Regions from separate parts of the Homo sapiens genome. Here region 1 is linked to region 2. The links come from fine-mapping of genetic effects on gene expression. A gene starts in region 2. The other region holds a variant in brackets. All regions are shown on one strand. Distances are between the middles of the regions.

What was found. PIP is the estimated chance that this variant, and not a neighbour inherited with it, causes the effect. A credible set is the group of variants that fine-mapping cannot tell apart.
Region 1: its variant is the best candidate, but not a certain one, in a credible set for the expression of STON2 in blood mononuclear cells (TOPMed, PIP 0.73).

Annotation. Positions count from the first base shown.
Region 1 is chr14:81,420,704-81,428,859 of GRCh38, forward strand. It overlaps a transcript of STON2 not described here. Among named protein-coding and RNA genes, the nearest start is that of STON2, 24 kb to the left of the region's middle. RefSeq lists an enhancer at 6,773-7,277. The variant T/A (reference allele first, on the strand shown) is at 3,124.
Region 2 is chr14:81,396,400-81,404,555 of GRCh38, forward strand. It overlaps STON2 (stonin 2), which reads right to left and starts at 3,925. Exons shown (of 8, transcript NM_001394390.1): 1 at 3,880-3,925; 2 at 1,896-2,181. The coding sequence starts at 1,983.

The DNA.
Region 1 (8,156 bases), 24 kb after region 2:
GTCACTGGTGGAGAAAATGGACATTCCAAGCTGGCAGGATGGTATCTATAAGAACAAAGCATGACAATACAAAATGGTCAATAAGAGGGTACCATTGCACTCAGCCATGCTTAACCACTCACGTTAACATGCAAAACTGTTGTTTGCTATCAAAGGGTGTATGCAACCTCCCTGATTCCTACGTCCACCCCCAAACCTGCCCCTCCCTAACCTCACACCTGAACATCACCCATCACTGACCCCAACCCCTGCAGTGTGTGTCACAGACAGGGTGGGATCTGGACATGAATAAGGCATGATGTGAAGGGAGGACGAGAGGCTCAGAAATGAGGTTCATGTTCAAGGATGGCCTGAGATTCAGCATTAATGTTAGAAATAGGTCAGGGGGCAGGGATGGGATGAAGCACTGAGACGGTATGAGGATGTCTTTTTGTTACCCGACTTGGAATGTGAAGAGCAATAGTTTTTTCAAGGCCTCCACTCAAAACAGCTGCATTAAAAATGTATTATGCCCCTACTGAGTCCAGAAGATGAATAAAAAGATATGTTTTCTGAACTATAGGTGATTTACTTTGACGAAGCAATGAGCCAGAAGGAGAAAAGTAAGACAGGAGGCTGGAGAGCTAGGAGTCAGGTCAGACAGGGCCCAGTAGGCCATGCCAAGAAGGCTGGGTTTTGTCATAAAGGCAATGGAGATCGATTAAACAATTTAAGCAGGGAAATAACATGACCCAATTTGTTTTTTAGAAAAAGGTTATTCTGGAAGCAATGAGAGAGATCAACCAGAGAGTGAAAAGACCAGCTAGTAATTAGAGTGATTAGGCATCGCAAGATGGGGGATAGAGAGGAAAGGTGTTTTTACAGCCATTTAGGATGTAATGTTATCAAGATATGGGGATAGAATCTTTTTTGGACTCATTGAGATTGTGGAAGTAAAGATGCAGTAGGTGGATGAAAAAAACCTTTGGAAAACTGGATCAATTTTTGTACCATTTGCCAAGATAAGGACTTCAAGAGGAAGAATGGTTGGGACATAAAAGGGAGGTGATGAGCTTAGCATTAGGCCCAGTGATTTGATGGGCCCGTGGGACAACCACATTGAGATGTTGTCTTTAGGACCTGTTAAATAGGCAGATTTAGAGCTCAGAAGAAGAGAGATGAGTGCTAAAAACACAGACTGAGAGGCCACTGGAAGCTGGGGATTTGGACTGGGTAACTCAGAATAATAAGAGGAAAAACAAGAACCAAGGCTGGAACCCTGGGGAAGGTCATTTGTGTTTAGCACAGGATAAACAGCCACTTGGAAGAAGTTCCTCATAAATGTGTTATCTTGTCACCATCATGAGGGCCTGGATTATCTTAGAACTCAGCAGAAGATCAGGTGCTATGATTTGGACATGCTTTGTTTGGCCCTGCCAAGTCTCCTGTTGTAGTTTGATCCCCAGTGTTGGTGGTGGGGCTCAGTAAGAGGTGTTTGGATGGTGAGGCCAGATCCCTATGAATGGCTTGGTACCATTCTCACAGGAGTGAGTGAGTTCTCACTCAGTTCCTGCGAGAACTGAAGTTGAAAAGAGCCTGGCACCTCCTCCTTTTTCTCTTGTTTCTGCTGTCTTGCTATGTGATCTCTGCACACCTGGGTCCCCTTTACCTTCCATCCTGAGTGGAACCAACCTGAAGCCCTCACCAGAAGCAGATGTTGGCGCCATGCTTCTTGTACAACCCGCAGAACTATGAGCCAAATAAACCTCTTTTCTTTATAAATTACCCAGTCTTGGGTGTTCCTTAACAGCAACACAAACACACTGAGACACCAGGTAAAAGAGATATTTGTGTTCATTCCAACTAGTCAATACTATGATAATACAGAATATTAAGGGAGCTCTGAGTGTGCTTGAGAAAGGAGAGAATAGGAGGCATTAGGACAGAGGTCACAGATTTCTGGATGCCCAGTTTTCCAGCATTTGAAGAAGTGAAACCATCTTTCTGCAGCATGGGCTTCAGTAAGTGCACGGGTTTCTGTGGGTCCACCTAGTATTTCTAGACTTCCAGGCCAGGCACGGTGGCTCACGCCTGTAATCGCAGCACTTTGGGAGGCTGAGGCGGGCAGATCACGAGGTCAGGAGTTCAAGACTAGCCTGGCCAACATGGTGAAACCCCGTCTCTACTAAAGATACAAAAAAAATTAGCTGGGTGTGGAGGTATGCACCTGTAATCCCAGCTACTCAAGAGGCTGAGGTAGGAAAATCGCTTGAACCCTGGAGGCGGAGGTTGCAGTGAGCCAAGATGGCACCACCGCACTCCAGCCTGGGAGACAGGGCAAGACTCTGTCTCAAAAAAAAAAAAAGATTTCTAGATTTCCAGCTTTCCAGCACTTGAAAAAGTGAAACTATCTTCATCTTCCTGCAACATGACCTTCTATAGGTATACCTAAGGTGCGCTGCACACTTTTCTTGATGTTATCACTACGTACACAAGTCACCAACCAGGAAGAGTTCTCAAGTTAGGGCCAAGACCAAGATGTACAACTCAGACTTGAAGGCCTCTCCTTGAAACTGGTTCTTAGCCTTTAAACAAAAAATTATAGCTCTCTGAATCTCTTTGAGTTATAATTTAAGCCAGAGACTCTCATCTCTGGAAAAATACACATACATGCAACATTAATTATAATTTAAGGCACTTCACAGACACACTTCTCAAAGTCCTAGGGATCTGTGGACTCCCTGTTAAAAACTGTCACCCTAGAACAACTTATCTGGCTCAAGTTGCTTTCGGGCCTTTCAAAACAAAACAAAATTATTCCAGAGGAGCCCAGCAGAAGGAAGCCAGGCACTGTGGCTTCTACTGACCCTGAACTGATAATTCCTTATTTCCGTTTTCAGCAAAGCGGAGGATACGTCCTTCCCTTTTCTGAGAATCCTTCCCCTCCCTCTTCCCCCAACAAAACAGACGCATGGGCATAAAACCAAAACAGCCTGGCCAAAGGCTAAAACACAGGCTGCTGCAGTGGCCTCATGGGGCAGCTGCACAGGGGCCCCTGGCTGATCATGATGTTATCCTTGTGAACCAGGCCTCTCACAAACAAGAAACCGACGCATCCCAAGTTTGTGTCTGCTGACTGAAGGC[T/A]GGGGCATGTGGGTGTCTCCAACTGCCAGGGACAGCCACAAGGAACCAGGACACACTGGGTGGGCTTGGCACAGTGCGAGAGTCGATGTCTGTTGACTGAGGCCTGGCTGCTTTGGTAGAGTGGAGTCTGAGGTTTTGATACATGAAATGCACTACTGACATCCCCTATGTTTAAAGTAAATTCTAAATGTGGAGAGCAGGTATGTTATGAAATGCCACAGCTTGCAGGACAAAAGAATTCTCACAGTATAAAATGTGAGCAAATGAGCACCTTTCAATGGTGACAACTCACTCATCCCCACACTCCTAGTTTATTTCCTTCTTTTATTTTTCCTAATCAGGCACGGTGGCTCATGCCTATAATCCCAGCACTTTGGGAGGCCAAGGCAGGCAGATCACTTGATGTCAGGAGTTTGAGACCAGCCTGGCCAACATGGTGAAACCCCATCTCTACTAAAAAGATAAAAATTAGCTGGGAGTGGTGGCGCACACCTAAAACCCCAGCTACTTGGGAGGCTGAGGCAAGAGAATCGCTTGAACACGGGAAGCTGAGGTTGCAGTGAGCCAAGATCGCGCCACTGTACTCCAGCCTGGATGACAAAGCAAGACACCATATCAAAAAAAAATATTTTTCTGATTTCTGTTTTTATTATAAACAGAATACACTCTCACTAAAAAAAAAAAAAATGGAAAATACAGAAAAGTATAATCACTGGAGTACTTCTACAATGATATGATTTTTAAAATTCCATCAGCATGCATTTCTTCAACTTCTCAGGGACACTTCCATTGTTTAAGGGTAAGGCATTCCTTATAGTGGGAGGACAGGCTGTCACCACAGACAATGGGACAGGATCCTTTGACCTTGTGACTTCCTGGGCTCTCATCTCAGTGGCTAAGAATTATGTATTCTATTGTTTTTTCCAAGTTGATAGAAATTTCCCACCATGTATGCCTATTCTCCTTACTTTCTCAATCTGAAAGACCAAAAGAAAAATTTAATCACTGGAAGCTCTTTCCTATTAATGTTTCTGCTTTGTTGTTTCTAAAGATTTTTTCTTTCAGTCTTCACATCACCCTCTCCCATTTAGAGACAGTTTCTCAAAAACCACAGTAGGGATTTAGAAACACACCACACTGTTACATACATTTGGTCCTGACACCACTAATAGCAGTATTTCTTTTGGTAGATGTCTCACTGACAGTAACTCTTGCAAAACAGAAAAGCTACAAATTCAAAGCATATAAACCATAAATGCAAATACAGCAGACATAATAATTAGAGAATGGAGTGACAAGACTTCAGAATGTGATTCTCCACATCTCTGGGTTCTTATTTAGCTTTGAGAGTGAGAGTTTTTTAGAAACAGATTCAGAATATTATTATTTGCTAAGTGAAATAAAATGGATTAGAGGAATTTTCCAACCAAGTGTAAAACTTGGATTTAAAATAGTAGAGAAGACTGAGCTTGGTGGCTCATGCCTGGAATCCCACCACTTTAAGAGGCTGAGGAGGAGGGAGGATCATTTGAGGTCAGGAGTTCGAGACCAGCTTAGCCAACAAAGTGAAACTCCATCTCCACTACCAACACAAAATTAGCTGGGCACGGTGGCTCACACCTGTAATCCCAGCTACTTGGGAGGCTTAGGCAGGAGAATCACTTGAATTCAGGAGGCAGAGATTGCAGTGAGCCAAGATCATGCCACTGTACTCCAGCCTGGACGACAGAGTGAACTCTGCCATCAAAAAAAAAAAAGTAGGGAAGATTGGTTAGTATCTTAGGGAAGAGTGAGAGAACCTTCTTACCTGGCTCATGGTGGCAAAGAGCAAACATGAGGTTATTATACGTAATACTAAAACACTGTCATCCAGTGGTATCTCTTTTGTTCTGTGTTTCAGTTTTCATATCTCTGAATGCTTGAGCATCTGCGATTCTTGTAGCAATTACCACATATAGAGGCCAGATCTGATCGCTGGATGTAATGTTTCAATTACAGAGAAAACGTAAGTCTCTGGCATATGTGTATAGTTACTATAGTATTTCCCTGACCTCTCTCTTTTATTATTTTTTTTAAAGAAGAAAAACAGTAGCAATATAAGTGGAATTAAAATTCGGATTTCAGCTTAGGGAAAATTCAAAGGGATTTAAACACATGTGACTGTCACCACTCCTCACTTTTAACAAATTTACATGAACGGTGAGAATCTTTCAAGACATAAAGTGGTGAACAGCTTCACAGCACGAATGTCGCACTTACTGAGCCCTCACACCTATGAGATGGGCATTTTTAACCACCAGTTCTCATCTCACAGGCAAAGAAACTGAGTCTCAGAGACTAAGTAACTTGCCCAAGGGCACAAAGATAGTAAGAGGTCAAATGGTATCCGACCCTAGTCTTAACTCAGGCACCTAACCATGGGATTATAGAGCTCAAATGATAAAACCACCCAAAGAAAATGCCAATGGGTCCATACCTCATTTTACACTGGCAAAGTGAAGAAAAGCACAAACTAGAAACCTCGAGCCAGCTTGAATTTCCCAGTGAAGCTGGCATGTCCCCTGATTCAACCCTAGGACCCCTTCTCCAGCTGTTAAATACCTTCATTCCTTCACAGCTTTAGATTCCATCTATAAGCTAGGGACCCCCCACACAGATGCTTCCAGCCTTGACTTCTCACCTGACTTCTCCTGGTGCCCACTGAGCATCTTCACTTCAACATCTAACAAGACTCTCACACTTAACGCATCCAGATTTGACCAGCGACTCTCCCTTCCCTGAAATGACTGCGGCAAGAACCCTTCCCATCCAAGATGATGGCACTCTACCCCTCCAGTCCCCCTCGCCCGAAACATCGAGTCATCCAACCTTGTCTTCTCGCTTCCTCTGACACAGTTTCTCTCATGTTCATTTTACAAAAAGGCAGTTTACATACATATTTCTCACATGATTCTTTAAAATGGCTAGTTTCCCTAGGACATTTTATAAGATTTCGTTTGAGCATAACTCACCGTGAGTACCTTAACTGAGGTAGTCACGTAAGCTTCGTCTAACACAGCACTGTGTAACCTACAAATCATGATGTTCACCTACCGCTTTATTTTTATGTGCTATTTGATAAACACTTACGTAACACTTCTCATCTCTCAGACATTGATGTCAAAGTGCTTTACTGTTCATTTAATTAAATTATCATATAATCCTCATAACCCTATGAAGTAGGTTCCCTTTACAGAGATAAGGAAACTGAGGCTCAGGGAGATTAAATAGCTTACCTGAAACCGCACAATTCAAACCCAGGCAGTCTGGCTCCAGAGTCTGTACTTGTAACCACTTCGCCCTGCTCCATCCACGAGATGTACTTTTTTGCCTCGTGAGTTGTTTTCCTATGAGTAGAAACATACATGCATAAATGAACCTGCACTCTTATCTGGCTTTCTTATAGCCAGGACCCACCTCTGCAAAGTGCCTGACCTGACTGGGTGCATATTCTCTACCCTCTTCACAGGAAAATGGCAACCAAATGACAGGAGATCACAGCCCCTGGGCCCAGGAGCACTGTGCTGTGACCAGCCAAGTCACCCAGACCGGAGTCTGATATGCGACAGCAAACAACTCTGACTCCTTGGGACTGCCTCCCCAAGGCCTGCTCAGGAATCGGGAACTTAAAATCAACCGGAAGCAGAGCATGTGCGCTCCAGGGTGCCTGAGTATGATGGATGGCACAGCTGGAGGAGCTGGCTGTGTTGCAGACAGCACAGCCCCGCCTATGCCAATTAGGTTGATGGGTGGTGACTGAGAAACATGCTGGATTTACTCAAATAGATCCTCACTCCCTAACTCACCAACTTTTTAGAGATCATAACAAAAAGAATAAGGATGAGATGGGAAAAAAAAAAAGAGAGAGAGAAAAAAGTGTGCTTTGACTGCCCTGCTGATACTGTGAACTGACCGTGCAAAAACAAAAGCAGTTTTCCTCCTACCAGGCATCTCCCAGGGTGTGGCCAGAGTGCACAGATAGCCCCTGTTAACTCTTTAGAGCACATTTCCTTTTGCTTCCAGATACCACAGTGACTCAGGGCATAGCTTCTAGATCTAAGCGATTAAGAGAGGTAGGTTTAAAGCCCAGCTCCATTACAACCTTTGACAAAGTACTTAGCTCCAGCCTCTGTCTCATGAAATGCTACTCCTCATGTAATGCTACTCCTTAGATGAGATGCTACTCCTCCTGACCTTACAGCGTTGAGGTGCAAATTAAGTAAAATAACATGGTATAACCACTCAGCAGTGGACGTAAAACTCAACGCATGATAGCTATTGATAGTGTTTTTGATAATTTCAGCAATGATAAAAGTTTTCCACCCTTCAACTGTTCAAAGTCTGAAGTAGAGGGAAATGTAGGGACACGGAATGATTTAGAAAAAAATGAATATTTTATGTTTGGCAAGGATGGGGAAAAACACAAAGTATTATTTTTGACAGCTCTGAGTTCACATAATAGACGACATTTAAACAACGTATAACTGGATACGTCTACCAAATATGGATCACCCCAGCCTTATCCACTTAACCATGGCATTATCATTATTCTCTTTTAAAAGCTTAAGACAAATGGGCCAGGCATGGTGGCTCACGCCTGTAATCCCAGAACTTTGGGAGGCTGAGGCAGGTGGGCTGCTTGAGGCCAGAAGTTCGAGACTAGCCAGGCCAACATGGCGAAACCCCGTCTCTACTGAAAACACAAAAATTAGCCAGGCATGGTGGCACACACCTGTAGTCCCAGCTACTGGGGAAGGAGAGACATGAGAATCGCTTGAACCCAGGAGGCAGAGGCTGCAGTGAACTGAGATCCTGCCACTGCACTCCAGCCTGGGTGACACAATGATACTCTGTCTCAAAAAAAAACAGAAACAAAAACCAAAAAAACTTAAGATAAATGTTTTCCGTTTCTAAGGCAAACAAATAAAATCTGTTTTCATTTAAAGTATCCCATTTGGTTTTTTTAAACCAGTTAGCTAACTTCAAAGGGCAGC
Region 2 (8,156 bases):
GGCAGGCAGAGACTAGGAGCCTTCTTCACTATTCTTATGCCAGCATCTACTCCAGTGCTTGGGGGTCACAAAGGAAAGTGCTTACAGAGGTCAAGTAGGAAATATACCTGAGTCAAGTGAGACAAGTGAAAGGCAAAAGGGACTGGTGGGGACTGTGGCTGAACAAGAGCACTTCTGTCTGAAGACATTCAAATTCAAATTTCAAATTCTTTGCAGTCTAAGCTATACACAGCCACAGGACACCAGGTGCAAACCCATGTGCACTAATGACCAGCTGAATGTAACCTAGAGGTTATTTCTGCAGCACTGTATCACTTGATTGGCCCCAGAAAATTAAACAGCCTTCAAAAATTTTTTTTTTGGAAATTAAAAAACCTGGCCGGGCGCAGTGGCTCATGCCTATAATCCCAACACTTTGGGAGGCCGAGGTGAGTGGATCACCTGAGGTCAGCGGTTCGAGACCAGCCTGACCAACATGGCAAAACCCCATCTCTACTAAAAATACAAAATTAGCCGGGCATGGTGGCACATGCCTGTAATCCCAGCTACTTGGGAAGCTGAGGCAGGAGAATCGCTTGAATCCAGGAGGCGGAGGTTGCAGTGAGCTGAGACTGCACCACTGCACTCCAGCCTGGGCAACAAGAGCGAAACTCCGTCTCAAAACAACAACAACAACAAAAAAACTATATCCTGATTATGGTGGTAGATACACAAATGTATACATGTGCTGAAATTCATCAGCTGTACAACAAAAGAAGTCAATTTTTCTGTATAAAGGTTTTTAATCAAATAATTAATATAAAATCTTTTCTCCCATCACTAGCCAACCGGTCCATCTGCAAGTATTCAAAGCCTCTACAGCACGTCAAACAGAAATAAAATGTGAGCTACATATGTAATTTTAAATTTTCTAGTAGCCACATGAAAAAAATTAAACACAACAGGAGAAAGTATTTTAATAATACACATTTCAACCCAATGCTGAAAATTTATAATTTCAACATGTAAGAAATATAAAATTATTAGCTATTTAATTTTTTTAAACTAGGTCTTTGAAATTTAGCATAGGTATCTGATGCTTACAGCACATCCCAATTCAGACTTGTCACATTTCAGGGGCTCAGTAACCACATGGCCACCATATTGGAGAGCATACCTGTCGACTCACACTTTCTAGGTGTTATAAATGACGGTGGGATGACTTCAGTTGGCACTGGTAGCTGTAGTAGAACAGAACCAACTCACATGTCTCTGCAAATATCTCCTGGATCCTACCTTGACCTTCATCCCTGAGCACAAGTTCTCCAAAGTCAATATAGTCATCCTCCTTATGATCAAGGATGACCGTACTGAGCTCTTTCCACGTGCCAGGCACTGCTCTAAGCACTTTTATGTATGAATTCACTTAAGCCTCACAGCAACCTGTGAGATAGGTACTGATTATCCCTACTGTACAGATAATGAAGCTATGCATGGAGAGGTTAAATAAATAATCTACCCAAAAGCATATCACTCATCCCTGGTGCAACAGGGATTTGAACCCAAGCACTCTGGCTCCAGAGCCTGTCACTTTTAACAACTACTTTTAATAACTACATTTTAAAAAGGCTGAGAGTAAAGTATTTGGTAAATATTAAGTTTTTGTTTCTTGGGAGAAAAGAGCCACTACCTTTGGTGTTTCCAAGCCTCTTTTTAGGGCCCTAAGGTTCCCAAGATGCTTTTTCAGTGTGTAAATTCTTCCACTTAGGATTCTAAGATCTCAAGAAAGAAAGTGAGAAACTGACCCTTTTTTCTATATTAAGATCCCACCCAAAGAATAATCAAGTAGAAGCCATAACAAATAGACATGGTTCTTTGACAATCTCTTCACTTTAGGAAACGAAGGCACTCCTTACCCTGCGAGTGGGCAGGAAAGGGTGGCTCTTCATTGAAGGAGACCCATTCTGACTGGTGGGTGGCAATCACATGGTCCAAAGTCGTCATGCTAAAAAGGCACTGGTCATCTTCACACTGCTGACCTCAGGTGAACCCCAGAATACTGTCTGGGGTGGGCTGGAGTAGGGGTATGGTAGTACGGTAGACTTGGGTCCAGGGTCTGTTCTAGGTGTCTTGCCAAGGGCAGTACTCAGAATGTAGACAGATCAGCCTCTCTTGCCGTTGGTTAATCTGCCAGGCAGAAATCTGTTTAACAAACAAACAAACAAAAAATTAAAAAGGATAACCATCACATTACACTGAATCCACATAGGTCTAGGGCTTTTAGCGCTGCCCACAAGAAGGCTTGGGGTGGTTTCCAACTTGCCTTACTTCACTCTGTTCCTGTCATGCCCTCACCTTTTATACTGAAATGTCTGTCTTTAGCATCAAGGTTTCTAGATAAGCCTTCATATCACACTTGCAAATAATTACACAAATTTCAGCAATTAGATTCTCTAATTTCCCTAATTATTGTATTTTAGAAATATTGTCATCTATAATACTATCATTGCTAAACAAATATTAAAACTTTTCAAAATGCTTTCACTTTCTCTTACTAGCTGGCAAAATAAAAGCATGTTCTTTTCTATTAAATTAGTCCAGTTTCTTGCCTTAGGCAGGTAACTCTTTATAAACCTGATTTAAATCTCTGGCAGAAACCCAACAATCTCCAGATGGTATCTCCAAGCATGGTTTATCAATCAAGAAAAATAGAAATGAAGTGATCTTGTTCATTTGGAGTAAGAGGATAGGGAACATCTGTGGTAGTGAAAAATGTGAGTTAGAGTAACATTTTCAATCTAGGCCTATTTAAATTAGTTACAATGGTCTAGCCTTTGCTCACACTGCAATTATGTTCTAGGAATACAGAAAGATTCTTAATTGACATAATTTTGTTCATGGTATTAATATCTTTTTACAACCTGAACCTAGCTCTTGATCTAATAATGATTTATAATGAATTAATAAAATCTGAATTTATCTAAAATTAATGTGCTTCCATAGAAGAGCTACTATATACCTTGAACAATATCAGTTCTTATTAACTAAATATACACAATATTCAGATAGTTTCTAGAACAACTTAACTCACAGTCTTCCAATTGCTGCACAATGAAAAGTTTAGGAAATTTTACTACAGGTTATCATCTGCAGTAAATAATCTCTAGGTGGGAAAATCGGTAAAAACATGAACAGCTTTTGCTTTTTTGGTGTTTAAAACAGTTTTGGCATATGATGCTTCCTAAAAACAACTAATGTTTATATAGAATTTATAATTTTCAGAAACACATTTTCATACCATACTTCACTTGATTCAGTAGCCATTTTGATGAGTAGGACTCATAGTACTCTAATTCTTCTATGGATAAAGAAATTTGGGCTGAGAAAAATTAAGTGACTTACCTAATACTTTTAGTGCTTCCAGGCCCTTTTGGTAAAATGCTTCCTCCAGGCTAAGTGGAAGAGTTTACAAATCTCAGCACAGTGGCTGACTTTTCTTCATAATAAGATCTCACCCAAAGAATAATCAAGTAAAAGCCATAACAAGCAGGTGTGTTTGAAGCACCACACTAAGTGATAGATCCAACCCTTGAGCCCAGGTCTTCTGCAGCCAAAACACTCTAACCCTGGTGTCACAGCCGCAAAGAAGTACAACAGAATACAGTACATATAGACTATCACCCAACTTAAGTACTTTACAAATATCAATTACAATGGAACTGTAATGAAATGTCCGGGAAACTCCCCATGTGAAAGTTTGCCAGCACACCCCAAGCTGTATAAAGGATGGGAAGCCCAGAAGCCTCTTCTCCAAGTCCCTCTCCTAGGATCCTTGCCAACCACAAGGCCAGACATAGGCAAACAGCCTGGAGAGAGCAGGTCTCCCAAACCAGATCTTACCAGAGAGCAGTGCAGGGTCCACAAGCACAAAGAGCTGATTCCCACTGGCTTCTGCCTTTGACGACTTTCTCAAGCCCTGTCAAATGTGTGTCACTCAATGTGGTAATGGCTGCGGGCCAAGATAAGGCAGTAAAATTGAAGAGTCAGATTCCTCCTCTTTCAACGACAGCAGCATGTAAACCAGCCCCACAGCACCCGTCAAAAAAAAAAAAAAAAAAACCCACAATACAAGTCCCTATGCTGACACATGCAGTGTCATCACTCAATGGGGAAAACATCCTGCCAATCCTGCAATGATGAACCCAGCAAAAGTCATGGATAAGTGGGGTAGGGAAGAGAACAGGGGACGAAGGTGAAGGTAAGAGGAAAATATTTAAAAATTTTAAACTGAAAGGTTTTAAAGATCAACAACTTCAGGTGTTATGAGAAAACTGAGGCCCAAGGAAATCAGGCACACGAATAGAGATTGTGATCACAGGCCCAGGAGTTAGGTTGTTCGGATTTGAGTCCTATACAGTCTTGGAGTCCTATACAGTCGTGGACTCATAACTCAACCTCTTTAAGCTTCAGTTCAACCTTGTACAGAAAGAATAATAAAACTCACTCCATAATTCCGAGGATTAAACAAGATAATGTACGCCAAGTACTAAGGACTGGATGTAATAAACCCTCTGTAACGATGACAATGAAAACAGCAGGTGACCTTACAGAGGGCTTACTGTGCCCCAGGCTCCATTCCAAACCAATGTTAGCCATCGCCAGCACTGCTGCTATTGTTAAATGACTCGCCCAACGTTGCGTAACTTGTTCGTAGAAGTCTTGGGACTGGAATGCAGATTTCATGAAACCACTGCATTTCTGTCATTTGCAGAATCTGGTTTCAGTCATTGTTCAAAATGCTAAGTAGAGTCATGTGCTCAGCTACAGTGCCCAGAAGGCAGATTCTAAATCCTCTTCATTATAGATATAGGTGCATTCTGGCCAAAGTACCAAGACCATTCCTCAGAACGTATGAACGAAAAAAGAGCCCCAAAACTTTATCTATCCTTCCTTCACTTGTCCCAGACCAGACATGGGCTGGTGACAGACAATGAGTGGTCCCAATGAAGACTGGTGGAACAAATTGATCACATGGAACCCCCCATCATATTCCATACCATAAATCCATAAAATGGATTTTAGGTATTTGCCATGGAAGAGCCACACCAATAAGCCATAAGAAATCAGACCTTGAAAAGTGCTGTGCTAAGCAGCTGGAAACCCACAGAAGAACCCAATAATTGTGAGGTTAAGTTCATACTGGAATTAGTTGCTTGGTAAAAACCTCACCCCATTTTTAGAATGTGAATCATAAAATGAGGTTTAGAATCACCACAAATGAGTGGTGACTCAGTATCAGCAGGAGGATTGACCAACAGATGCTAAAAGTTTCATTGAAGTCTTGGAGTTGCCATTTCAGAGAGCTACTTCTTTCTCAGCATTATACAAAAATTTGTAGAAGGGAGAATGCAATTGTCTGATAAGATGGGGGTCATAGAAGTAGTTTTGTCTTATGACAGTCCTCTAATTGCCACAGTTTAGCCGTAGGGAGATCTCTGAGAGTTGGAACCATATGGGACTGGGTGGGTTTCTGAGATGTGAAGGATGTCCTTGATTCTGGACCAACAGAGGGACAAGTGAGGGAAGCCTCTGGACAGGGGATCACCGCAAGTGACAGTAAAAATCAGAAGCAGACCTTAACAAGGTGTGTTTCTGTCTGAACAAGCCTCTGTCTGATGAGAGCAGAGGTATCTACTGGGGGAATATGGAGTGAAGGGATTGATTGACCATAAAAGCTAAGGAGAGTTCAAGGGGAAATGAGAAGCTGTGGGAGGTTTAAAAGCAGAGAGTGACTCAAGAAGTGTGCTTAAGGGAGATAAGCCTTCCTCAGACAGTGCTGGACAGAAGCGTGGTGATGGAATTTTTCAGCCATCAGTACCTCCGGTGTGTCTCACAAAGTTGGGGGGCACAGTCATCAGGAACATGTACTGTTTCTGCCCATTCTAGGGCCTGAGGGTCAAGGGAGAACAAAACAGCATCTCTGCCCTCAAGCAGCTGTCAACTGCAGGGAGATACCACAGCAACCTAAAACAATAACCTCTGCTCTCTAACCTATTCTGGTGGTTAGTCACCAAAAGTAGGACAGCAGCAAGTAAGAGTGTTAAGAGACTTCTGAGAGCTTGAGCTATAGGTGGTCTTGAACTGTACCCTAAGCCGGAAAGGAGGGGTCTGAGCAAAAGAGCTGAGGGGCACAGGCACTCAGGAAGGGGGAGCAGGAATGGTATGTCTAGCCCACAGTGAGTTACACTCTGTTCATCTGAAGAGGGTGTCAAGCATCCTGGAAAAGGAGCTCTAAGTTTCAGAACGAGTTTGAGCTCTGGAGCTTACCCTCTCCAATCCCACTGCCAATGCCTTGGCTCAGCCCCTCATGATCTCTCACGCAGACAGTTGCAAGTCTCCTACCTGTCTCCCTGCCTTCAGTATCACCTGCTCAAACCTACTATCCAGCCTATTATGGTAGAGTTATCTTCCTAAAACCTGAAAATGGCTATGCTACAGCTCTGCTTACAGCTCCTCAAAGTCTCCTCACAGGATAAAATGAGGTATGAGAAATGAACAAAGGATTCCTGAGAGCAGGGGTTGCATGCTATACCCTCAGCATTGAGCATAGTGCCTGGCACAGGTTAGCAGCTCAATAAAAATTGTCGTATAAATGCAGGCACTTTGTGAATCTGGCCCTGATCCACCTCTCTAATCCCATGTGTCATTCTCTCCCCTTGTGAATCCTATATTCCTGATGAACTGAGTTATTTGAAAGACTGTGTTTTTTAATATACTTTGTCCTATTCGATCACTTGTTCATATATTAATACATTATTAAATACTATATTTGGGATACATTTTCCCTACATTTTTATTTCATGAGCTCCTGCTCACCTTCAAGTCTTAGCTCAATCATTATCTCAGGCTTGGCTCAACAAGCATTTATGCCAAGTGGCAATCACTGAATGCAAAGATAAAGAACACAAATTATTTTGCCATAAAACCTTTATAATATGCATGCTCATTGTCTTTTGCCTACTCAACACCCAAAACTCCTTTCTTTTTCGAGAAAAAAAATATTATCTTTACATCCCTCCTGGCAATTAATCCAGGCTTTGTCAACGGCTGCTAGAATATTGAGGGAATGCTAAAAGGTACAAGGGCCTTGAATACATGCAAGAGTGGCATGCGAACAATGGAAACTTGACCCAAGCCCAGAAGCAGGCACAACTCAATTCCGTGGCAATGGTGACAAGTGCAGCATCCTAACCAGACCCATGGTGTGACTCTGTCTCTGTTTACTGCCGGCTAGGTCCTATGGCTCCTACCTATTTTCCAAGCCACGTTTGAGAGTCATCTGGCAATCCAATGAGCTCTTTCATACCCTTGAATAGACTTCTTTCCTGCTTGTATTAGCCAAAATTAATTTCTGTTGCTTGCAACCAAAAACTCTGATCTATGGTGGTACTCCTCAACTTCCAATAAGTAAAGTACCACACTTCCCACTTGCCCTTTATCCCCCATATCTTCTGAATGCTGATACTATCTTAACTTACACTCATTTACCAAATTATAATGAAATTATTTGCTAATGTCGCTATATGAGGAAAGGGACTTGATCTTTTGCTTATTGATGTCTTTAACTCTTAGAATAGGGTATGGCTTTTAGTAAATGCTTGTTGGGTAACCAGCTGAATGAATGAATTTGCCTTAACATACAGTAGGTAGCCTCTTCAGCTCTTTTGAGACGTTAATAAATGTTTTAGGAAGGTTAATTTAAACACTATGTGTAAAACAGCTTCGGAGAAAATCTAGATATAGGGAAATATGTTCATTCCCCTTTCTCTTTGATCTAAAATTATATCATCCAATTCCAATACAGCAGACACTAGACATAGGGACTACTGATATGTGGTTAATCTGAATGAGTTGTTCCTTAAGTGTAAAATATACACCAGACTTTAAAGAGTATAAAAAGGTGTAAAATATCTAATAATTTTATACTGCTTTCATGTTAAAATGGTATCCTGGATGTATTAGCTTAAGTAAAACATACTGTTAAAATTAATTTCACCAGTTCCTTTCAACTTTTTTAAATGAAACTACTAAAATATTTAAAATCATATATAAGTAGCCCACACTATATTTCTTCCTTTTTTAACTGAGACAGGATCTCACTCTTGCTCATGCTGGAG